Linked DNA regions of Homo sapiens: all the other regions are linked to region 2. Evidence: fine-mapped expression QTL. A gene starts in region 2. Each other region holds a variant in brackets. All regions are shown on one strand. Distances are between the middles of the regions. Region 1 overlaps RHPN2 (rhophilin Rho GTPase binding protein 2). Region 2 holds the start of GPATCH1 (G-patch domain containing 1). Region 3 overlaps CEP89 (centrosomal protein 89).

Region 1 (8,045 bases), 39 kb before region 2:
ACTCTGGTGGTGACTTGGAGAACCTTTGTGTTGACAATCTGTATCTAGCTCATCTGGTGGGGACATGGAGAACCTTTGTGTCTAGCTCAGGGACTGTAAATGCACCAATCAGCACCCTGTCAAAACAGACCACTGGGCTCTACCAATCAGCAGGATGTGGGTGGGGCCAGTTAAGAGAATAAAAGCAGGCTGCCTGAGCCAGCAGTAGCAACCTGCTCTGGTCCCTTTCCACACTGTGGAAGCTTTGTTCTTTCACTCTTTGCAATAAATCTTGCTGCTGCTCACTCTTTGGGTCCACACTGCCTTTATGAGCTGTAACACTCACTGCGAAGGTCTGCAGCTTCACTCCTGAAGCCAGCGAGACCACAAACCCACCGGGAGGAAGGAACAACTCCAGACGAACAACTCCAGACGTGCCGCCTTAAGAGCTGTAACACTCACCGCAGAGGTCTGCAGCTTCGCTCCTGAGCCAGCGAGACCACAAACCCACCAGAAGGAAGAAACTCCAAACACATCCGAACATCAGAGGGAACAAACTCCAGACACGCTGCATTTAAGCACTGTAACACCGCGAGGGTCCGTCGCTTCATTCTTGAAGTCAGTGAGACCAAGAACCCACCAATTCCGGACACACTAGGATTGCACTGCTACACTCAGTGTGGGCAACAGAGTGAGACCTCCTCTCAAAAAATAAATAAATAGGCATGGTGGCTCACAGCTGTCATCGCAGCACTCTGGGAGGCCTAGGCACGAGGATTGCTTGAGCCCTGGAGTTTGAGACCAGCCTGAGCATCATAGGGAGACCCAGTCTCTACAAAAAAATTTTTAAAATTAGCCGAATGCCAGTCAGGTGTGGTGGCTCATGTCTGTAATCCCAGCACTTTTGGAGGCCGAGTGGGCGGATCACTTGAGGTCAGGAGTTTGAGAACAGCCTGGACAACATGGTGAACCCCCTCTCTATTAAAAATACAAAAATTAGCTGGGCATGGGGGTGCGTGCCTGTAATCTCAGCTACTAGGGAGGCTGAGGCAGGAGAATCGCTTGAACCCAGGAGGCAACAGAGCGAGACTCCATCTCAAAAAAAAAAAAAAATTAGCCTACTATGGTGGTACACACCTGTGGAGGCTGAGGCGGGAGGACAGCTTGAGCCCAGAAGGTTGAGGCTGCAGTGAGCTGTGATCATACCACTGAACTCCAGGTTGGGCAACACAGCAAGACCCAGCCTCAAAATGAATAAATATAAAAATTTTATTTATTTATTATTTATGTATTTATTTATTTTGAGACGGAGTCTCGCTCTGTCACCCAGGCTGGAGTGCAATGGCATGATTGCAGCTCATTACAACCTCCGTCCCCCTGGTTCAAGCAATTCTCCTGCCTCAGCCTCCCAAGTAGCTGGGATTACAGGCGCACACCACCACACCCAGCTAATTTTCTTTTCTTTTTGTTAAGAGACAGGGTCTCACTCTGTCACCCAGGCTGGAGTGCAATGGCGCGATCTCGGCTCACTGCAACCTCGAACTCCTGGGCTCAGGGGATTCTCCAGCCTCAGCCTCCCGAGTAGCTGGGATTACAGATGTGTGCCACCACGCGTGGCTAATTTTTGTATTTTTAGTAGAGACAAGGTTTAACCATGTTGGCCAGGCTGGCCTCAAACTCCTGACCTCAAATGATTTGCCCGCTTCAGCCTCCCAAAGTGCTGTGATTACAGACTTGAGCCACCACGCCTGGTCTAAAAAGTTTTTTTTTTAAAGTAATACATGTGTATGTTGCATTCTGTCCCCATTTGTTTTAGTGTAATTATTTTTCTCCCAAGTCTTTTAATAAAACTATCCTTCCAGGAATAAGCACCACATTGACATAGTGACTTGCCGCAGCTTCAGCGACCTTATTAGAGCAGCTTAGCCTTAGTCCATCTGATCCCAAATCCCGCTCTGCCAGGGTTTCAGGAGGCTGGAGCGAGGACTGTCCCATCCCCTGCTGAGGTGGCTGATCAGCCAGACCGGCAGGACATCTGCTCCCAGCCTGTCTCTCAATGGAGGAAGGTGGGCCTTGATGTTGATGTCAGCCCCAAAGGCTATGGAGGGCCTGCAAACCCCACCACAGACACACACCAGCCCTCCCACAACTGACGGTGTGAGCTGTCATCAACCTCAAGTCACTCTCATGACAGCCAAGGCCACCTCACGTCACTCCTGACCCAGAATTTCATCACCCCCGTCCAGAGGTCACAAACTAAACTGAAGGCCCGAGGGACTTGTTCACCTGGCTCTCAGGATGTTACTATCCCCCCTCTGAAACGAGTCCCCAAAACTTAAAAATTCAACAATCGGCCAGGCACAGTGGGTCATGCCTGTAATCCCAGCACTTTGGGAGGCTGAGGCAGACAGATCACTTGAGGTCAGGAGTTTGAGATCAGCTTGGCCAACATGGCAAAACCTCGTCTCTACTAAAAATACAAAAATTAGCCGGGTATGATGGCGCATGCTTGTAGTCCCAGCTACTCAGGAGGCTGAGGCAGGAGAATCACATGAACCTGGGAGGCAGAGGTTGCAGTGAGCTAAGATCACGCCACTGCACTCCAGCCTGGGTGACAGAGCAAGACTCTGTCTCAAAAAGAAAAAAAAAAAAAATTCAACAATCAGATTAAAAACAAAAAAAAATTCCTAACTTCTCCTGGAAAAAAAAAAAATTAGAAGATACAGCAACTCTGGCCCTACCCTCCATGAGGCAAACTGCAGTTGCCTCATCCAGACAGGGCATATGCTGTGCACTTCACCACAGTCCCCACCACTCCCTGTTGTCTCACAGCACAGAATCCAGCCCCATTCACTCATTTAAAGCCCACCTGATCCCTGTAAACCTCGGAGCAGGTCACTTCTGATCTAGCCCAACAACTCTCAGCACAACAGGGGAACCTGAAGCCCAGAGAGGTTAAATGACCTGCTCTTGTTCAAAGAATCAAAGAACTAGTTAGCTAAAACTAGTTAAAACTAGGCAACCTGCCTTTTTTTTTTTTTTTTTTTTTTTGAGACGGAGTCTTGCTCTGTGGCCCTGGCTGGAGTGCAGTAGCGCGATCTCAGCTCACTGCAAGCACTGCCTCCCAGGTTCACGCCATTCTCCTGCCTCAGCCTCCCGAGTAGCTGGGATTACGGGCACGTGCCACCACACCCGGCTAATTTTTTTATTTTTAGTTTTAGAGATGGGGTTTCACCATGTTGGCCAGGATGGTCTCGATCTCTTGACCTTGTGATTCGCCCACCTCGGCCTCCCAAAATGCTGGAATTACAGAAGTGAGCCACAGTGCTCACCGGCCCTGCTTTAAATTTCACAAGGACTGCCTCAATTTCAGATAAACTTCATCATATTTCTACCCTAGCTTTTCTCAAGGGAGGGAAGCTGGGAGAAGACAGAATATTGTCTCTGGTTGGCCTAAATGAAAAAGTACGGTCAGGCATGGTGGCTTACACCTGTAATTCCAGCACTTTGGGAGGCTGAGGCAGGCAGATCACCTGAGGTCAGGAGTTCCAGACCAGCCTGGCCAACACCGTGAAACCCTGTCTTACTAAAAGTATAAAATTTAGCCAGGCATGGTGGCACATGCCTATAATCCCAGCTACTCGGGAGGCTGAGGCACAAGAATCACTTGAATCCAGGAGGTGGAGGTTGCGCAGGTGAGCTGGTATCTCGACACTGCACTCCATCCTGGGAGACAGAATGAGACTCTGTCTCAAAAAAAACAAACAAACCTGAAAAAAGTGCATTTGAAATATTTGATGGCTTCCTAAAAAAACTCCAGGAAGCTCATGGACTCCCAGCTGGAATGGATCAGAGAAGGGGAAGACTTTGAAGGATCATAAAATCTGGTTTTTCAAGTGCCTGCCTAGCCACGATACCCTCTGACAGTCCTCAGATAAGGGCTTAGCACCCCCATTTCCATTCCTGCATTTCTGGGGACACCTCCAAACATCCCCCACCCCTATTCCAACAGATCTAC[T/C]TTCCTTTGGGGGCTGCGGTAGGAAACCTGGGAACCAGAAGACAAACAGAAGGAAAGCAGGGCCTAATTTACAACTGAAACCACCCATGGCCTGCAGAGACAGCCACGTAATGGGTCGCCCAGGGACACTGAGGGGCCAGAGCGGAGCTTGGCAAAATGCCCTATTTGTTTTCGGGAAACCGTTGGTGCTTGTTGAGTCAGATTAATAAATACCTTCAGGGTTTCCTCTGACAACATTCTCCAGCAAGGGGTACTTTGAACCTTTAGGCCACTGTGAGAATCATTAACAACCCCCCACTCCTGCCCCTGCCAACCCAACCACTGCCAGTTTAACAATGAGCTTGAGTCAGGCTCGGGCCTCAGAAAGGGTGACTGCTGTTGTCGTTAAGAGAACAAGGCACACAAAACTGCCCTAGTTCCTGCCTGAGAAAGTCCAAGTTCCCTGCTCACAGGGGCCTCTCTGACCACCCTCTGTCTCTAAGGCTGGCCATCCTGGGCCAACCTCTATGATATTCAGAGTTCATTATTCCCTAGAAAACATCACTTCCCTAGGTGATCTGATTTGTTTACTTGTCTATAAAAGTCTCCTCCCATCCTCCAACAAGAGAAATCACAAAAGCAGAGCCTCGCCTGATCTTCAGGCACCTCAACTGTGCCTGCCACTTAACAGGTGCTCAATAGCCAGGCACAGGGGCTCACTCCTGAAATCCCAGCACTCTGGGAGGCTGAGGCAGGAGGATCACTTGAGGCCAAGACTTTGAGACAAGCCTGTGCAACACGGTGAAACCCTGTCTCTACTAAAACTTTAAAAAATTCAATTAGCCAGGTGTGCTGGCACGTGCCTGTAGTCCCAGCTATTTGGGAGGCTGAGGCAGGAGAACCACTTGAACATGGGAGGCAGAGGTTGCAGTGAGCCAAGATTGAGCCATTGCATTCCAGCCTGGGCAACAAGAGTGAAACTCCATCTCAAAAAAAAAAAAAAGGTGCTCAATGAATCCATGAATAGGTAAATCAATTGTTGTCCACTCCTAGGAAAGCCATACACCATCAAGGCTGCCCACCTGCCCCCTTGGCCACAGAGCAGGCCTGTCCAAGGGTCAACCAGAACCCTAGGCCACAAAACATACCACGGCCTTCCCAGCACATGACAGGGAGTCCCAAAATCGGGGGCCTCTCTCACGTCACACAGATGACATGAGTTGCTCTCTGCTATGGGAGTGGACAATTCCCATGTCCAAACTTGTCTTGGGATAGGGACACTGCTTGACTTTTTAAAAGCCAAAACGCTACAGTATTTTTCCCAGCCTCCTCCAGTAACAACCTGCTTTGCACCCAGTTGCAAAAGGAGCTGGAGAAGAGATTCCCAGACAAACTTCCCACCCAGGACCTCAAGTCATCAGGTATTCCGTGAGTAACAAAAGCAACACAGGCCAGGCACAGTGGCTCATGTTTGTAATCCCAGCACTCTGGGAGACCAAGGCAGGAGGATCACTTGAGGACAACAGTTCGAGAACAACCTGGGCAACACAGCAAGACCCTGTCTCTACAAATAATTTTTAAAAAATCAGTCGGGCATTGGCCAGGCACAGTGGCTCACGCCTGTAATCCCAGCACTTTGGGAGGCTGAGGCGGGTGGATCACGAGGTCAGGAGTTCGAGACCAGCCTGGCCAAGTTGGTGAAACCTCGTCTCTACTAAAAATACAAAAATGAGCCGGGCACGGTGGCGGGCACCTGTAATCCCAGCTACTGAGGAGGCTGAGGCAGGAGAATCACTTGAACCTGGGAAGCAGAAGTTGCAGTGAGCCAAGATCACGCCACTGCACTCTAGCCTGGGTGACAGAGCAAGACTCCGTCTCAAAAAAAAAAAAAATTAGTCGGGCATGGTGGTGCATGCCTGTGGTCCCAGCTACTCAGTAGGCTGTTAGGAGGATTGCTTGAAGAGCCCAGGAGGTTGGGGGCTACAGTGAGCTGTGATTGCACATTGCACTCCAGCCTGGGCAACAAGAGCGAAACTCCATCTGAAAAAAAAGAAAAAAGGTGGCATGACGCCAGACGCAGTAGCTCGCGCCTGTAATTCCAGCACTTTGCGAGGTGGAGGCAGACGGATCACTTGAGGCCAGGCGTTCAAGACCAGGCTGGCCAACATGGTGAAACCCCGTCTCTACTAAAAAGACAAAAAATTAGCCAAGCATGGTGGTGCATGCCTGTGGTCCCAGCTACTGGGGAGGCTGAGGCAGGAGAATCACTTGAACCCAGGAGACACAGGTTGCAGTGAGCCGAGATCACGCCACTGCACTCTAGCCTGGGCGACAGAGCAAGACTGTCTCCAAACAAACAAAAAACAAGGCGGCACGGGGCTAACCATGGTCTCCAGTAGAACTCTGAAGGAAGAAGAAACTCTGCACTCTTTGTAAACAGAGTGCTGGCACATTGTCTTTTGTTGCATTTCGTTGCCTGGAGAGGGTTTATAGAGGTCTAGACACAGGTAAGGCTTCTCTGAGTTCTATGCTGGGTAAGTAACTGTTTTACCACGAGAGCATACTAATGAGTGCCCTAGATCACGGGGGTGTACTGAGCCCTCTCATTAGCAAGGTGGACACTGGCAATAGAAATATCCCCTCTCCTTCCTTTCTGCTTTTCTTTCCTTTATATATTCAATAAACATTTACCAAGCAAATTCTGCACCAGGCATAGTGTCAGGCAGTGGAGAAAATAGACAAGTCCCAGAGAAAGCCAGAAAACAAACCTCGAGACAAAAATTGGGCTTCCCATCAAGATGGCTGACTGAATTGAAGCCAAATGCCACACCGTCTGCATCTATCTCCCACCCACCCAATCCCCAAACACACAAACAGGCGGGGTAAAATATCTGTTTTCAACATAACCAAGCTATAGGCAAGAAAGGGACGACTCCAGATGCCAGAAATGAGGAGGAAACCCAAAGCTGAAACCAAGAGCCTGGCCTGGGAGTTTAGGGAACAGATGACTAGGACTCAGGAGAGGCAGGGAAGCCAGAAGACACCTACTTCAGAAGGTTTTCCGCTCCGGTCCTCATCCGCACGGCTTTCAGGATCTGCTGATTCAAAGCAGCTCTTTGATTCTGCAATTTACTCCGGCCGGTTTGTGCAAGGGGATTACAGCCCTGAGGAAAAATAAGAGATGCCCCTTCAGAGGTCGGCCACTCTAAAAATGATGACAGGGTTTAATATAATGGAAAATGTTTAACTTTAAAAATAATCTTTTCTGAAAACAAAGCATCTACATAGAAAATATTGAAAAGTATAAAGAAAAGTCGCTCATAACAACACAATTGCAAAACAGCCACTGTGAATTGGTCTTTCCTTCTCATCTATTTTATTTATGTAATTTATTTTAGAGACAAGGTCTGAGCTAGGCACTGTGGCTCATGCCTGTAATCCCAGAACTTTGGAAGGCCAAGGCGGGTGGATCACCTGAAGTCAGGAGTTCAAGACCAGCCTGGCCAACATGGTGAAACCCTGTTTCTACTAAAAATACAAAAAATTAACCAGGTGTGGTGGTGGGCGCCTATAATCCCAGCTACTCAGGAGGCTGAGGCACGAGAATCGCTTGAACCTGGGTGCTGAAGGTTGCAGTGAGCCGAGATTATGCCACTGCACTCCAGCCTCGGCAACCAAAGTGAGACGCTGTCTCAAAAATAAATAAATTAATTAAAGACATATCTCTAGGGCAGAGTTATAAGATCAAACCTTTCAGGGCTACCCATGGGCCAGCCCAATCATCCTCCAGGACAGAAAGGCACCCACACCCTTGTGACCGCTTTCCCCCTCACTGTTACTGAGTATCTACTTTTTTTTTTTTTTTTTTTGGAGATGGAGTCTCGCTGCGTGCCTAGGATGCAGTGCAGTGGCGCGATCTCGGCTCACTGCAATCTCCGACTCCTGGGTTCAAGTGATTCTCATGCCTCAGCTTTCCAAGTAGCTGGGACTACAGGTGCATGTCACCATGTCCAGGTAATTTTTGTATTTTTAGTAGACACAGGGTTTCGCCATGTTGCCCAGGCTCGTC
Region 2 (8,045 bases):
ATTACGAGTAATATAGAAATAAAATCATGGACTTTGGTGTTTTGTCTGAATATATGAATTTGTCCCCAATCTTTTTTACTTTCTTTTACTTTTTCTTTTCTTTACTTTTTTTTTTTTTTTCTTGAGACGGAGTTTTGCTCTTGTTGCCCAGGCTGGAGTGCAATGGCATGATCTTGGCTCACTGCACCTTCTGCCTCCTGGGTTCAAGTGATTCTTCTGCCTCAGCCTCCCGAGTAGCTGGGATTACAGGCATGCGCCACCATGCCCAGCTAATTTTGCATTTTTAGTAGAGACAGGGTTTCTCCATGTTTGTCAGGCTGGTCTCAAACTCCTGACCTCAGGTTATCTGCCTGAGTGCTGGGGTTATAGGCGTGAGCCACTGCACCCGGTTTCTTTTACTTTTTCTTTGAGACAGCGTCTCATTCTGTCACCCAGGCTGCAGTGCAGTAGCGCAAATTCTGCTCACTGCAGCCTCTGCCTCTGGGGCTCAATTGATTCTCCCATATCAGCCTCTGGAGTAGCTGGGACTACAGACACGCACCACTATGCCTGGCTAATCTTTGTATTTTTTGTAGAGGTAGTTTTGGCATGTTACCCAGGCTGGTCTTGAACTCCTGGGCTCAAGTGATCCTCCTTACATGGCCTCCCAAAGTGCTGGGATTATGGACTTGAGCCACTTCGCCCAACTTTCTTTACTTTCTTTTTTTTTTTTTTTTTTTGAGACAGAGTCTTTGTCGCCCAGACTGGAGTGCAGTGGCACAATCTTGACTCACTGCAAATTCTATCTCTCAGGTTCAACTGATTCTCATGCCTCAGCCTCCCAAGTAGCTGGGACTACAGGCATGAGGCACCACACCTGGCCAATTTTTGTACATTTGGTAGAGACAGGGTCTCACCGTGTTGGCCAGGCTGGTCTCAAACTCCTGATCTCAGATGATCCACTTGCCTCGGCCTCCCAAAGTGCTGGGATTACAGGCGTGCGCCACTGCACCCACCCTGATTAAGTATAGTTTACTATGTTTATTTATCCTCAAACATTCCAAAGCTTGAGGATAGCCACCCAGAAACACCAATTCCAAATGTATAGGGTCAACATTCCAAAGGGGAGCCCAGGCACGATGGCTCACGCCTATAATCCCAACACTGTGGGAGGCTGAGGTGGGAGGATCACTTGAGCCCAGGAGTTTGAGACCAGCCTTAGCAACACAGTGAGACCTGGTCTCTACAAAAAATAAAATAATTAGTTGAGCGTTGTCAACTAGTAGTCCCAGCTACTTGGGAGGCTGAGGTGAGAGGAAGGCTGCAGTGAGCCATGATCCTGCCACTGCACTCCAGCCTGGGTGTCAAAATGAGATATTGTCTCAAAAACGAAAGCAAAAACACACAAAAAAAGCATTCCAAAGTGGAGAAGTTACGGTTTCACTTATATAGGCAGAGACATACAATCCTTACAGTGACTTGACTAGCTATAGGATGCTACCTTCCAAGGAAGATTGCTTTATTACTCTGTGAGGGGTGTACCCGTCTGAGGAAGTCTTATCTCTGCCCTGTTTGGTCTTAGTTATTTCTAGGGTAAAAGGGGCAGAAGGTACAGCTGCTCGCCATGTGATTCATGCTGCATAACCACATTCCTCTCAAGTTTCAGGATCATTTACAATTCCAACAGCAGCTGGGCGTGGTGGCTGGTGCCTGTAGTCCCAGTACCAGGGATGTTGAGGCTGGAGGATTGCCTCAGCCCAGTAGTTTGAGGCTGCAGTGAGCTATGATTGCATCACTGCACACCAACCCTGCCTCTAAAAAATAATAATATCAACAATAAAGTTCCAACAGCTTTAAGTTTGAATTATTTAATTCCACAACTCATTTATCAACATATGTTGCAGATAACTCATGGGGAGTTTAAAATACTCATAGTATTGTCACAGGTTATAGGTTTTTCTGATTACGTATTGCTGTTAATGAATTATCCCATATCTTTTTGTTGCTGTTGTTAGAGACAGGGTCTTGCTATGTTGCTCAGGCTGGCCTCTGATTCCTGGGCTCAAGTGATCCTCCTGTTTCACCCTCCCAAGTACTGTCACTAAACCTGGCTAATTGCTTCATATCTTTTTTATTTTTTTTTTCCCCTTAGAGACAGGGTCTCTATAGACAGAGATCCTCTGTCTATAGAGGATCTATGAGCAAGGTGGCTCATGCCTATAATCCCAGCACTTTGGGAGGCTGAGGTGGGTGGATCACCTGAGGTGAGAAGTTTGAGACCAGCCTTGCCAACATTGCGAAACCCCGTCTCTACTAAAAAAATACAAAAATTAGCCAGGTGTGGTGGCGCACGCCTGTAGTCCCAGCTACTCAGGAGGCTGAGGCAGGAGAATCGCTTGAACCCAGGAGTTGGAGGTTGCAGTGAGACGAGATCGCACCATTGCACTCCAGCTTGGGCAACAGAGTGAGACTCTGTCTAGACAAAGAAAATAAACTAAAAAAAAAAAAAAAAAAGAAAATTACAATTAAATTACAATTACAACTGGAAAGCAGTTGGGAGATTTCCTGAAGAACTTAAAACAGAACTACCATTAGACCCAGCAATCCCATTACTGGGTATATACCCAAAGGAATATAAGTTGTTCTACCATAAAGACAAATGCATGCATATATTCATTGAGGCACTACTCACAATAGCAGAGACATGGAACCAACCTACATGCCCACAAATGGTGGACTGGATAAAGAAAATATGGTCCACATACACCATGGAACACTACACAGCCATAAAAAAAGAACAAGACTGGCCAGGCGTGGTGGCTCATGCCTGTAATCCCAGCACTTTGGGAGGCTAAGATGGGCGGATCACGAGGTCAGGAGATCGAGACCATCCTGGTTAACACGGTGAAACCCCGCCTCTACTAAAAATACAAAAAATTAGCTGGGTGTGGTGGCAGGCGCCTGTAGTGCCAGCTACTCGGGAGGCTGAGGCAAGAGAATGGCGTGCCTGGGGGACAGAGCGAACTCCGTCTCAAAAAAAAAAAAAAAAAGAAACAACAAGACCATGTCCTTTGCAGCAACATAGATGCAGCTGGAGGCCATTATCCTAAACAAACTAATGCAGGAACAGAAAACCAAATACTGCATGTTCTCACGTATAAGTGGGAGCTAAACATTGAGCACACATGGACATAAAGAAGGGAATGACAGGTGCCAGGCGCAGTGGCTCACGCCTGTAATACCAGCATTTTGGGAGGCCGAGGCGGGTGGATCACTTGAGGTCAGGAGTTCAAGACCAGCCTGGCCAACATGGTGAAACCCAGTCTCTACTAAAAATACAAAAAAAAAAAAAAAAAAAAAAAAAAATGGCCGGGTGCGGTGGCTCACATCTGTAATCCCAGCACTTTGGGAGGCCAAGGTGGATGGATCGCCTGAGGTGGGGAGTTCGAGACCAGCCTGACCAACATGGACAAACCCCGTCTCTACTAAAAAAAAAATTACAAAATTAGCCAGACATAGTGGTGCATGCCTGTAATCCCACCTACTAGGGAGGCTGAGGCAGGAGAATCGCTTGAACCCGGGAGGCGGAGGTTGAGGTGAGCCGAGATCGTGCCATTGCACTCCAGCCTGGGCAACAAGAGTGAAACTCTGTCTCAAGAAAAAAAAAAAAAAAACCACCACAACAACCAACCAACCAAACAAACAAAAATTTAGCAGGGCGTGGTGGGGTGGACGCTTATAATCCCAGCTATCAGGAGGCTGAGGCAGGAGAATCACTTGAATCTGGGAGGCGGAGGTTGCAGTGAGCTGAGATCGCGGCCACTGCACTCCAGCCTGGGCGACAGAGCGAGACTCTGTCTCAAAAAAAAAAAAAAAAAAAAAGGGAATAACACCAGGGCCTACTTGAGGGTGGACCTACTTGAGGGTGGAAGGTACGAGGAGGGTGAGGATCGGAAAAACTACCTATTGGGTACTATGCTTATTACCTGGGGAGGAAATAATCTGTAACCCAAATCCCTTGCGACATGCAATTTACCTATATAACAAACTTGCACATGTACCCCTGAACCCAAAATAAAAGTAAAAAATAATAATAATAAAAATAAAGCGAAGCCCCACGGGGCGAGCATGAAATCTGGGAGCTCAGCCATTTCCCTGGAGGTGGCTGGGTGGGCGGTGGGAGTGGACGGGGCTGGGCAGTGACTGCTGCCAAGGCAGGGGGCTGGCGCGAGGGACGGGGGTAGGGGGCTGGGCAGGCATCGGTGTCGCCTCGCAGGGAACAGTTGGGTGGCTTCCAGCTTATGCCAGGAGTCTCCTCCTCACCCGCACATCGCGGGGCTAGGATGGGATGTCGTGGCTGCCAAATCCTCCGAGGCAACTCCTGCCTGGGACGGCCTACCACAGGATGGGCCTGAGAATCCGGAGCGCAGGCTCGGGCCGCTAGGACACCTTCCCCCGCCCGCGGACCCAGCCTTCCAGCATCACCGGGGTTCGCGGAGGAGAAAGAGGAAAGGCGTTTGGCCTGCCAAGGCCGCCGTAGCGAGGGGGCGGGGCCCGGAAGAGCAGGATGGCGGCGCGGGACAGTGACAGCGAAGAAGATCTGGTCAGCTATGGGACCGGGCTGGAGCCTCTGGAAGAAGGTGCGGGCCGCGTGGGCCGGCGGAGCCTGTGGAAAACAGGCCAAGGGCCCAGGATTCGGGCCACAAAAGCACAAGTCGGTGCTGGACCATTGTTAGATCGTTCCCAGCGCTGGGAACACGGCGACGAGGGAGGCGTTAGCCGCGCTCTCGGGGTGCTCACCTTCTGCAGCGACAGAGAGAGGTTTACAGGGACGGGAGACACAAGCGTGGCCGAACAAGGGGGCGGCGAGATAGAAACAAGAAAATGACGGAATAGCTAGTGTGAGAGCGGGGGGTGCTCAGGCAGTGTCTTCCCCGAGAGAGGACGTTTGAGCTCAGACTTGAAACCGAGGAAGAAAACAACCATGAGCAAATCTGGAGGGAAAGCATTTCAGGCAGAAGGAACATAAAGTGGCAAAGGCCCTGAAGTGGGAGCCAGTTTAGGAAATTGAGGGGCAGGCAGGACGGGTATGGTTGCAGCAGATGACAGCGGGGGAGACAGGTAGAAAAGAATGTCAGAGGGGCTGACAGGGGCTGGATCTTACTTGGTAGGGTAAAGAGTTTGGATCTTGTACTAAGTGCAGGATTAGGGTTAGGGTTAGGGTCATGGGAAATTACACAGGGAGGGATATATATATGATTTTTAGAGACAGGGTTTTGCTCTGTTTCCCAGGCTGGTCTTGAACTCCTGACTTCAAGTGATCCTCTCGCTTCTGCCTCCCAAAGTGCAGGGATTACAGGCTTGAGCCACTGTGCTCGGCCAATTTTTAATGTTATTCTATCTTTGATGTTGAGAATACACTGGTTGGGGATGGGTAAGAGTGAAGCAGGGAGATTAGCAAAAAGAGGTCAGGAGATGATGGTGGCATGGATGGGACAGCAGTGGTGGTGGTGTGTAGTGGTCTGGGTGGAGATATATTTTGAAAGCAGAGCTGACCATACTTGCTGGTGGAATGTGGGGGTGAGGGGCAAGATGAATCAAGGTTCTCTCCTGTGTTTCTGGTCTGTTCCACTTAACGACTTGACTTGTTCAGCAAGTTATGTATTGAGTGTCCAGTAAGGGCTGTTGGCTGTGCTAGCCCTGTAGGGAAGGCAGAGGAAGAATGGTGGAATCATTGGGCCACAATTTATTTGCAGACCTCCTGTTGGTGGGGGTCCCCTCCCTTTTTTCACCCTGACCACATCCTGCCAGGTTGATTGTACTTCTGGGATATCTCCACTTATGCCCCCTTTATTTCCTACAAACAGTTCTGGTGGAAACTTCTGCTGGATACTGGCCCTTCTTCTACCCTCGGCTTACAAAAGGTTGAGAAAGGGGCCAGGCACAGTGGTTCACACCTGTAATCCCAGCACTCTGGGAGGCTGAGGTGGGAGGATTGCTTGAGGTCAGGAGTTTGAGACCAGCCTGGGCATTGTAGTGAGACTCTGTCTGTAACAAACAAACAAACAAACGAAACAAAAGGCTGAGAAAGGCTAGTCTTCCGAATGCTTTTTATGTGTTTGAAGTCAGCTGTTGCATTTTCTTAAGACATCTCTGTTCTACACTCACTATCCCAAGTTCTTTTTTTATAGAGACAGGGTCTTGCTGTGTTGACCATGCTGGTTTCAAACTCCTGACCTCAAGCGATGCTCTCACCTTGGCTTCCCAAAGTGCTGGATTGCATGCATGAGCCACAGTGCCCAACATTTTTTATTTTAAAAATAGAGATGAGGCCGGGCGTGGTGGCTCACGCCTGTAATCCCAGCACTTTGGGAGGCCGAGGCGGGCAGATCGCGAATTCAGAAGATCCTAACCATCCTGGCTAACACGGTGAAACCCCGTCTCTACTAAAAATACAAAAAAAAATTAGCTGGGCGTGGTGGGGGGGGGCTCATGTAGTCCCAGCTACTCGGGAGGCTGAGGCGGGAGAATGGCGTGAGACTGGGAGGCAGAGCTTGCAGTGAGCCAAGATGGCGCCACTGCACTCCAGCCTGGGCGACAGAGCGAGACTCTGTCTCAAAAAAAAAAAAAAAAAAAATAGAGATGGGATCCTTCTATGTTGCTCAGGCTGGTCTTGAACTCCTGGCCTCAAGTAGTCTTCCCAGCTCAGCTTCTTAAAGTGTTGGAATTATAGGCGTGACTCTCTACGCCTGGCCCCAACCATGTTTTTGTTTTTTTTTTTTTTCTGTGACAGAGTCACGCTCTGTTGTCCAGGCTGGAGTGCAGTGGCGCGATCTCGGCTCACTGCAACCTCCGCCTTCCAGGTTCAAGCGATTCTCCTGCCTCAGCCTCTCAAGTAGCTGGGATTATAGGTACATTCCACTACGCCTGGCTAATTTTTGTATTTTTAGTAGAGACAGGGTTTCGCCATATTGGCCAGGCTGGTCTTGAAGTCCTTAGGTCAAGCAATCCATCTGCCTTCACCTCCCAAAGTGTTGGAATTACAGGCGTGAGCCATTGCATGTGGCCCCCAACCTTGCTTTTGAAGTGGAAGGAAAGGACATGGATTTGTAGACTTTGTTTTTCTGGACTAAAAACATTCTTTAACTTCTCAGTAATACAAGTTTTTGAGGATTGATTCATTGTCTTCTAAGCACTTTTTTTTGAGAGTTTCGCTCTTGTCACCCAGGCTGGCATGCAATGGTGCGATCTCGGCTCACTACAACCTCTGCCTCCCAGGTTCAAGAGATTCTCCAGCCTCAGCCTCCCGAGTGGCTGGGATTATAGGTGCCCACCACCATGCCCGGCTAATTTTTATATTTTTAGTAGACACAGGGTTTTACCACGTTGGCCAGGCTGGACTCGAACTTCTGACCTCAGGTGATCTGCCTGCCTCGGCCTCCCAAAGTGCTGGGATTACAGGCGTGAGCCACCATGCCCAGCCAGTTTTCTAAGCACTTTGAAATTTAAATGCACTCTGTCTGTATTTTACGATATAACACACTAGACTAATAATTATTTTTACTCCCTGCTTTGAAGTTTTAGTGACAGGTTAGACAGGCATTGGTAGAGGAGAACTCCATTTTAATTAAAGTTGCTGGCCCTGACAGAAAGGTTTATTAGTTAAGAGTTAACCAGGGAGCCTAGTGACAGTGGCTGAACTTTATAGACACATAGGCCTTCTAATCTGGAAAGAAGGGGGCCAGATACTTACCTATTCTTTCCTTAGACACTTCCACTTGGTTCTAGAATTCTTATCTACAGCTCATTCTATACCCAGATTAATTTTAGGGCCAATTTTCTCCTCCTTGATGCTGTGACTCTCACACTTAAAACTAACCGTGGCTTCCCTCGCCCCCAGGACACACTATAAACCCTGCAGCACTATGTTCAAGGCCCCCTGCACTGTCCGCCTTTCTGGTTCCATCTTCCGCTCATTCCTTGGCCTCCCGTTAGACTGGACTTTCTCAATACACCTGACCTTGCCCTTTTTTTTTTTTTCTTTTTTTTTTTGAGATGGAGTCTTG
Region 3 (8,045 bases), 110 kb before region 2:
AGGGCAATAAGAAGGGTTGTTCTGTCGTCAACAAGGTTGTGACCAGAAAGCACACTATCAGCACTCATGAGCACACCTATGGAGTGTGCTTTAAGACACTGCCCCTGGCATACACAAAGAGATCTGGAAATTTTCCATGAAAGAGCTAGGAACTCGAGATGTGTGCATTGATGCCGGGCTCAACAAAGCTGTCTCAGACAAAGGAGTAAGGAATATCCCTCACCCTATCTGTGTACCACTGTCCAGAAAGCGTAATGAAGATGAAGATTGATCAAACAAGCTCTGTACATTGGTTAGCTATGCAACTGTCACCACTTTCAAAAACCTACAGTCAATGTGGATGAAAACTAACCACTGACTGTCCAAGTTATAAAAGACCACACACACACACACACACACACACACGCACTCACACGCATGCACATGAACACACACACACACACACACACACACACACACACACACACTCTGACCAAACCAAGTGTTGGTGAGAATATGAAGCAACTGGACTCATATACTGTTGGTGGGAACATAAATGGGACAATGACCTTGGAAAATAGTTTGACAGTTCCTTAATAAATTAAATACCTGCCTAGTATAAGGCCCAGTTATAGATATTTACCCGAGAAATGAAAGTATGTATCCAAACATTTGTGTATACATTTTTTTTTTTTTGAGATATAAGTCTCGCTTTGTTGCCCAGGCTAGAGTACAGTGGTGCGATCTGGGCTCACTGCAACCTCTGCCTCCAGGTTCAGGCGATTCTCGTGCCTCAGCCTCCCCAGTAGCTGGGACTACAGGAGTGCACCACCACACCCAGCTAATTTTTGTATTTTTAGTGGAGATAGGTTTTCACCGTGTTGACCAGGCTGGTCTCAAACTACTAAGCTCAGGTGATCTGCCTGCCTTAGCCTCCCAAATTGCTGGGATTATAGGCATGAGCCACCACACTCAGCCAGTGTGTAAATGTTTACAGCAGCCTTTTTCTAGTAACCAAAAATTAGAAACAAACTAAATATCCATCAACAGGAGAATGGATAAACAAACTGTGGCATATTCATATAATGAAATACTACTCAGTAAGGAAAAGGATGAATTATTGACTTTCGGAACACGCGTTAATCAGAATAATCATGCTGAGTGAAGGAAGGCAGTGTATTTTATGTAACTCCACTTATATAAAATTCTAGAAAATACAAGCTAATCCATAGTGTGAGAAAGGAGATGAGAGGTTGCCTGGGGATGAACAGGAGCATGAAAGGTGGCAGAGAGGGGCAGGGGGAAGGAATTACAAAGGAGCATGAGGACCCTTGTCAGAATGATAGATATATTTATTATCTTTTTTTCTTTTTCAGGAGCTACCCTATTAATTATCTTTTTAAAATAAACTTTTTTAGAGGCAGGGCCTCACTCACAACAGCCTCACTGTTGCTCAGGCTGCAGTGCAGTGACATGATCATAGCTCACCGCAGCCTTTTCCTCTTGGGCTCAAGTGATCTTCCAGCCTTAGCCTCCCGAGTATCTGGGATTGCAGACATGCACCATCATGCTCAGATAATTTATTTTCTTTTGATTTTTGCTATAGATAAGGATTTGCTATGTTGCCCAGGCTGATCTTAAACTCCTGGGCACAAGCAATTCTCCTGCCTCAGCCTCCCAGGATCAGTTTACCCTAGGAGTTCAAGACCAACTTGGGCAACATAGTGAGACCTCCATCTCTGCAGAAAATTTAAAAAATTAGCCAGGCATGGTGGTGTGTACCTGTAGTCCCAGCTACTCAGGACGCTGAGACAGGAGGATCGCTTGATGCTAGGGGGTTGAGGCTGCAGTGAGTCACGTTCGCACCAATGCACTCCAGCCTGGGCAACAGAATGAGACCATATCTCGAAAAAACTTTTTGTTTTGGCCAGGCACAGTGGCTCACGTCTGTAATCCCAGGCACTTTGGGAGGCAGAGGCAGGTGGATTGCTTGAGCCCAGGATTTCAGCCTGGGAAACATGGCAAAACCCTATCTCTATAAAAAATAGAAAAATTAGTTGGGCATGGTGGTACATGCCTGTAGTCCCAGCTACCCGGCGGGCTGAGATGGGAGAACTGATTGAGCCTGGGAGGTGGAGGCTGCAGTGAGCCATGATTGCACCACTGCACTCCAGCCTGGGCAACAGAGCAAGATCTTGCCTTGAAAAAAAAATTAATAATTAAAAAAAAAAAAGAAAATGGGCTGGGTGCGGAGGTTGATGCCTGTAATCCCAGCACTTTCAGAGGCCAAGGCAGGCGGATTAAGAAAGAGGTCAGGAGTTTGAGACCAGTCTGGCCAACATGGTGAAGCCCCATCTCTACTAAAAATACAAAAATTAGCTAGGCGTGGTGGCATGTGCCTGTAATCCCAGCTACTCCGGAGGCTGAGGCAGGAGAATTGCTTGAACCTGGGAGGTGGAGGCTGCAGTGAGCCAAGATTGCGCCACTGCACTCCAGCCTGGGCAACAGAACAAGACTCCGTTTCGAAGGAAAAAAAAAAGAAAGAAAATTATGTGTATAATTCAAAATTCCCTGTTAACCTGAATACTTGGGCTTTAATGCTTTACATTTTTTTTTAAATACTCATTGCATTCAATCATGAAATGTGAGAAGTTCATGCACCTGAAAAGGAGAGACCTCAAGTCAGTCCATTATCCTCAGAGACACCATATTAATTGCATCATTATGGAATCGTGGTAAACATTTTGAAGGACATGATTCTAACCACCCTACTTATACTTTTCTGGGCAGTTTGAGCAGTTCCAGGATCCAGTACTTGGAGGCTGAGCACAGGGGTGACCTCAGTGCCTGCTCATCTGATACTCACCTTGGTCTCTCTGGAGATGGGTTGGGGCTGCGGGGAGGAGGTGTGCGTGGCACAGCTGCCTTCGGAGCAACGCTGGCTGCAGGTAAAAGGCCATGGATGATGTGTTTCTGCACAAATGAAATCCAACAGAAGTCACTGGGTTGGGTCACTGGATCACCTGAGTCTTGTCACCACTCTCCCTGGGCCTGCAAGGGGACACCTGCACTGGCCACCCATGGATCCAAACCCATCAGAAGCCCACTCCTCCCCTGCCATCCCCAGTCCCCATCAGGCCAGACAAGTGCACACAGCCAAGGAGCATCATGATAGCTGCTCATTGTGTGGCCCTCTTGTCCTTCCCTCCTCAGAGCTTCCCTGGCTGTCCCCAAGAGTCACCCTCTAGCTCTTCCATGTGTCCCACAGCACTCCCCCCAGTGATGTCTCATGTGGCTCCCCCTGCAGAGCAGGGCGACTTCCTGAGAAGCAAGTGATATCCTTATTGTTTTTCGCTTTGTTTTGTTTTTGAGATGGGGTCTTGCTCTGTTGCCCAGAGTGGAGTGCAGTGGTACGATCATAGCTCACCGCAGCCTCAAACTCCCGCTTCAGCCACACGAGTAGACGGGACTACAGATGTTCACCACCATGCCTAGGTAATTTTTGTATTTTTTTGTAGAGACAGGATCTCACTACATTGCCCAGACTGGTCTCGAACTTCTAGCTTCAAGTGATCCTCCCACCTCAGCTTCCCAAAGTGTTGGGATTATAGGTGCGAGTGCTGCACCTGGCCCACTCTCTTATCTTTATCAATCCTGGAACTCTAGCATTGAGCACATTGCCTCACACCTCATAGGGGCTTAATATAAGCTTTTAGGTGGCTTATCTCCAAGACGAGAGTAATGAAAACTAGCTCCTATACACAATGAAAGTCAGAGAGCTCCGCTTTAGGTAACTGTAACTGGGAGTCTCTGAGACGTTTCTGGGTCTAGTCCAATCATTTTCTTGGCACGAGCCATTCATTCACACCTACTAGAGGCAAAACACCATGACAGCAATGAAGAAACCTTGTCTTCATCCCCAAAGTGGTGAGAAGGGAGGAAAAACACCCAAATAATTATTACAGAACATAGAATTATGGAATGAGCCGGGAGAAAGGCTCTCACTAAAAATGAAAAAAAAAAAAAAGAGCATCAATGAGATGTGGGATAAAAACACTATTGTTTTCTATTTGAAGCCAGTAATTAGCACAAAGTGCTGGGGTGGGCAGGGAGGGAAGATTCCTCCAGGTCTGGGGCCAGCCTGGGAATTTCAAATGCTTTCCTTCGAGAAAATCACACAGGCGTTTAGACTGGGCTTTCAGAGATGCCCACTGGTCCCACATTTGGAAATGTGACGGAACAGCATTCTAGGAAGAGGGAACGGCATGAACAAAGGAATGGAGCAAGACATTGGTTGCAGTGCTCGGAAATCATAAGCACGATTCTCCGTTTTGCTAGACTAGAGGCATCTTCGAGGGTGGGGCTTGGGGGCATGGTGGGGACAATTCCCATGGGAAGGGCTTCCAGAGCAGATGGAGGAAATCCCAAGGCCTAGTGAGGAGCACCCACTGACAGTGGCCCCAGGAATGTTAGGTAGTGGTCAGCACGAGACACAAGGCTGGGAAGGGTGGCACAGAGTGGGGGCATCTTTCAGGAGTGAGGGATGGGCACACCTTCCAGTCATCTCCTACAGCCCCCACCACCGACTTGCACAGCCACCCACAGGAGCAGAAGCTCCAAGCAGTCTCTACCCAATACCCCCACTCTGTTTACCTCTGTGTGGCACCTGCCACCCTGTATTTGTCAAGTGATTCCACAGTTTCCATGTTTCCACCCTGCCCCCCTCCACCACCTGCTACACGACAAGAAATGGTTTTTGTTTGTTTGCTTGTTTTGGAGACAGTCT[T/G]GTCTGTCACCCAGGCTGGAGTGCGGTGGCACGATCTTGGCTCACTGCAACCTCCACCTCCTGGGTTCAAGCTATTCTCATGCCTCAGCCTCCCAAGTAGCTAGGACCACAGTCATGTGCCAACATGCCTAGCTAATTTTTGTATTTTGGTAGAGATGGGGTTTTACCATGTTGGCCAGGGTGGTCTCAAACTCCTGACCTCAGGCAATCCGCCTGCCTTGGCCTCCCAAAATACTGGGATTACATGTGTGAACCACTGCACCTGGCCAGAAAAGGTTTTCTTAACCTTTGAATCCCAAGGGCTGGCGTCCAGCAGGTCCTCCAAAAAGGCTGCATAAGATTTTTTTTTTTTAAAGAGTGAATCCCCCCTCATACCATCACAATCATTCCTAACTATGGTCCCCTCATCAATCCTGTCTCTACTGGGCATAAAAACCCTCATGGGCAGCACCACTCTCTCAACGGCAGGCAAATGTCCAGCATGGCTTATCAGGCTGATATAGGTTGGTTCCTACCAAGTGTTATGGGATTTTTGGGGTGTCGATTTTTCTGGCCGGAACCTCTGTGGCCACAGTGCCTTTGCCTGAGTTCTTGTCCTGCATCCAGGAAGAATGAGGTACACAGACAAGTGAAGGGTGAAGAGGAGTTTTATTTAGTGTTAGAAGAGCTCAGAGGAGTGGGTAGCTCCTCTCTGGAGACAGATTGTCCCATGAGCTCAACCATTCAGCTCTCAACAGAGAGGAGGCCCTGGAGAGAGTGGCTCCTCTCCGCAGGCAAGTCATTCCAATGTCTCTGCAGGTCTCTGAAGCTCGCAGCAGAGTGTAGCTCCTCTCTGCTGGCAGGTGGTCTCTGTAGCTTTCAGCGGAGAAGGTACTCCTCTCTGTAGCTGGTCACCCCACCGTCTCCAGCTATCAGCAGAGAGGGTACTGCTCTCTGCAGCTGGTCATCCTGTCCCCTCGTCTCTACCATCTTCATCCTCTGGCTATTCTCTGCGCTGCTCTGGCTGAGCCCAGGGTTTTTATGGACCTCAGCGGGGAAGAAGTGTGTGCTGATTGGGCCATTGGCAGGCCCAGAAAAGGCTCCACGAGTTTCCACTCTGGTCAGAGGGACTGGCAGCCCAGCCCCCAGAATTCAGGCCCTCCCTGGCCTGAGGGTGGGGCCTTACTGGGGACCCCACCCCCTTCCTCCTGCTGCCATTCATGGCTGCAGGTCTTGGCTCCGACTCCCCTCCAAGATCAGAGCAGTTGCTGGAGTGGAGAGAGGCCAGGCAGTGGAAGCAGACACCCCTGAGCCTGCAGGGATGGAGGGTGAAGGGGGCTGTCCTTCCTGGGATGGCCGATGGTGCAGGCTACAGAGATGCCCTCGTCCTGTGCCTGGGGGGGCAGCCACAGCTGCACCTGGGAGCTCCCACCCCGCCAACTTGGAAGAGGCAGGGCTCCCACTTGTCCCTGGCTCCTGCCTGCGCGGCTGCAGCTGCATCTGGAAGGGCAAATTCTGCCTGTTCCCGGCTCCCCCAGGAGCAGAGAGGCTCGGATCCACAGCTGCAGTTTGGGTGGCTGTAGCCCTGCCCAAGAGGGTGGGGCTCCTGCCTGCTCCATAGAGCAGAAGGCCTGGGTCTGCAGCAGCGGTTTGCGGCTCCAGTCCCAACTCATGAGGGACGGGGCTTCCACCGGCTCCATGAAGTGTGCAGCCCTAGCCACACAGCGTGATGGCAGCAGCCACTGCCATCACAAGGACCCAAATTCATTTCTTGCTTCCCCTCCTCTTCCTGCGCAGAGTCCCTGTGCTTCAGCACTCAGCGTGGGCTTCCATTTCCCAAACAGCAAATAATTCATTCTTTTTTAGGCCTTGGTATTTGCTGTCTTCTGCACCCAGAATTCTTTCCTTACTCCCTGCCAGGCCCAGGCCAACTCTCCAGGCTGACGTCACTGCCCTTCTGGTACACACATCAACAGCAGTTCTTGTTTTACCATTGTGTACAGAATTATTTATGGGCTTGTCTATCCTACAGACCGTGTGGCCATAAGCTGTCAGTTGTGGGTATCAGCACACAGCAGGGACTCATTAATGTTTGGGGCTTTAAATAAAAACTCAAGCCAGATGCAGTGGCTCACACCTGTAATCCCAACACTCTGGAGGCCAAGGTGAGAGGATTGCTTGAGCCAAGGTTTAAGACCAGCCTGGGCAGCATACCCAGACCCCATCTCTACCAAAAAAAAAAAATTATGTTTTTTTGAGGCAGAGTCTAGCTTTGTCGCCCAGGCTGGAGTGCAGTGGCACAATCTTGGCTCACTGCAACCTCTGCCTCTCGGGTTTAAGCGATTATCCCACCTCAACCTCCCGTGTAGCTGGGATTACAGGTGCCCACCACCACGCCCGCTAATTTTTGTATTTTTAGTAGAGATGGGTTTTCACCATGTTGGCCAGGCTAATCTTGAACTCCTGACCTCAAATGATCCGCCTGCCTCAGCCTCCCAAAGTGCTGGATTACAGGTGAGAGCCACCTCACGTGGCCTCTACAAAATAATTTTTAAAATTAGCCAGGCATTGAGACTTGGCAGAGTGTGAGGCAAAAAATAAAATAAATAAAAAATACCTAGGTGTGGTGGTGCACACCTGTAGTCCCAGCTACTCAGGAGCCTGAGGCAGGAGGATCACTTGAACCCAAGAGGTTGAAGCCACAGTGAGCTATGATCATGCCACTGTACTCCAGCCTGGGCATCAGGACAAGACCCTGTCTCTAAAACTAAATTAAATAATAAATAAATATAAGAATCCCCTTGGCTGCTACGTGGAGAATGGACCTAGGGGAAGGGCGAGAGTGGAAGCAGAGAAACCAGTGAGGATCTGCCGCAGCAGTCCAGACAGATGCTGGAGGCCGGGGTGTGGGTGGAGATGGGAACAGCTGGCAGATGTATGTAGTGGGTATATCGGATGGGACTTGCTGATGGGGTGTACATGGTGGGTGGAGGAGGGAAAAATGAAGAATGGCTATATCCAGCAGTGCAGCAGGTGTACGTCGTCCAGGAGTTAACTCCGGGCACGGGGACGAATGCTACAGGGGAGGCAGGGTGCTCCTGTCCAACTGTGGCCGACCCTGGGGCAGAAGATTGTTAACGCCGGGCACAGTGGCTCACGCCTGTGATACCAACACTTTAGGAGGCTAAGGAGCTCAAGACCACCATAGGAACATAGCAAGATCCCTGTTTCCACAAAAATATTGAACAATTAGCCGGGAGTAGTGGCGCGCGCCTGTAGTCTCAGCTCCTCGGGAGGCTGG

Evidence for each region. PIP is the estimated chance that this variant, and not a neighbour inherited with it, causes the effect. A credible set is the group of variants that fine-mapping cannot tell apart.
Region 1: its variant is the best candidate, but not a certain one, in a credible set for the expression of GPATCH1 in whole blood (TOPMed, PIP 0.79).
Region 3: its variant is the best candidate, but not a certain one, in a credible set for the expression of GPATCH1 in whole blood (GTEx, PIP 0.56).

The regions. Positions count from the first base shown.
Region 1 is chr19:33,037,225-33,045,269 of GRCh38, forward strand. RHPN2 (rhophilin Rho GTPase binding protein 2) reads right to left here. Exons shown (of 15, transcript NM_033103.5): 2 at 7,025-7,140. Among named protein-coding and RNA genes, the nearest start is that of RHPN2, 24 kb to the right of the region's middle. RefSeq lists enhancers at 4,133-4,277, 4,409-4,910, 6,096-6,646 and a cis regulatory region at 4,198-4,211. The variant T/C (reference allele first, on the strand shown) is at 3,998.
Region 2 is chr19:33,076,648-33,084,692 of GRCh38, forward strand. GPATCH1 (G-patch domain containing 1) reads left to right here and starts at 4,534. Exons shown (of 20, transcript NM_018025.3): 1 at 4,534-4,619. The coding sequence starts at 4,547. RefSeq lists enhancers at 4,429-4,758, 6,394-6,894, 6,865-7,034 and a cis regulatory region at 6,950.
Region 3 is chr19:32,963,515-32,971,559 of GRCh38, forward strand. CEP89 (centrosomal protein 89) reads right to left here. Exons shown (of 19, transcript NM_032816.5): 2 at 2,846-2,952. It also overlaps the pseudogene RPL31P60. Among named protein-coding and RNA genes, the nearest start is that of CEP89, 4.4 kb to the right of the region's middle. The variant T/G (reference allele first, on the strand shown) is at 4,766.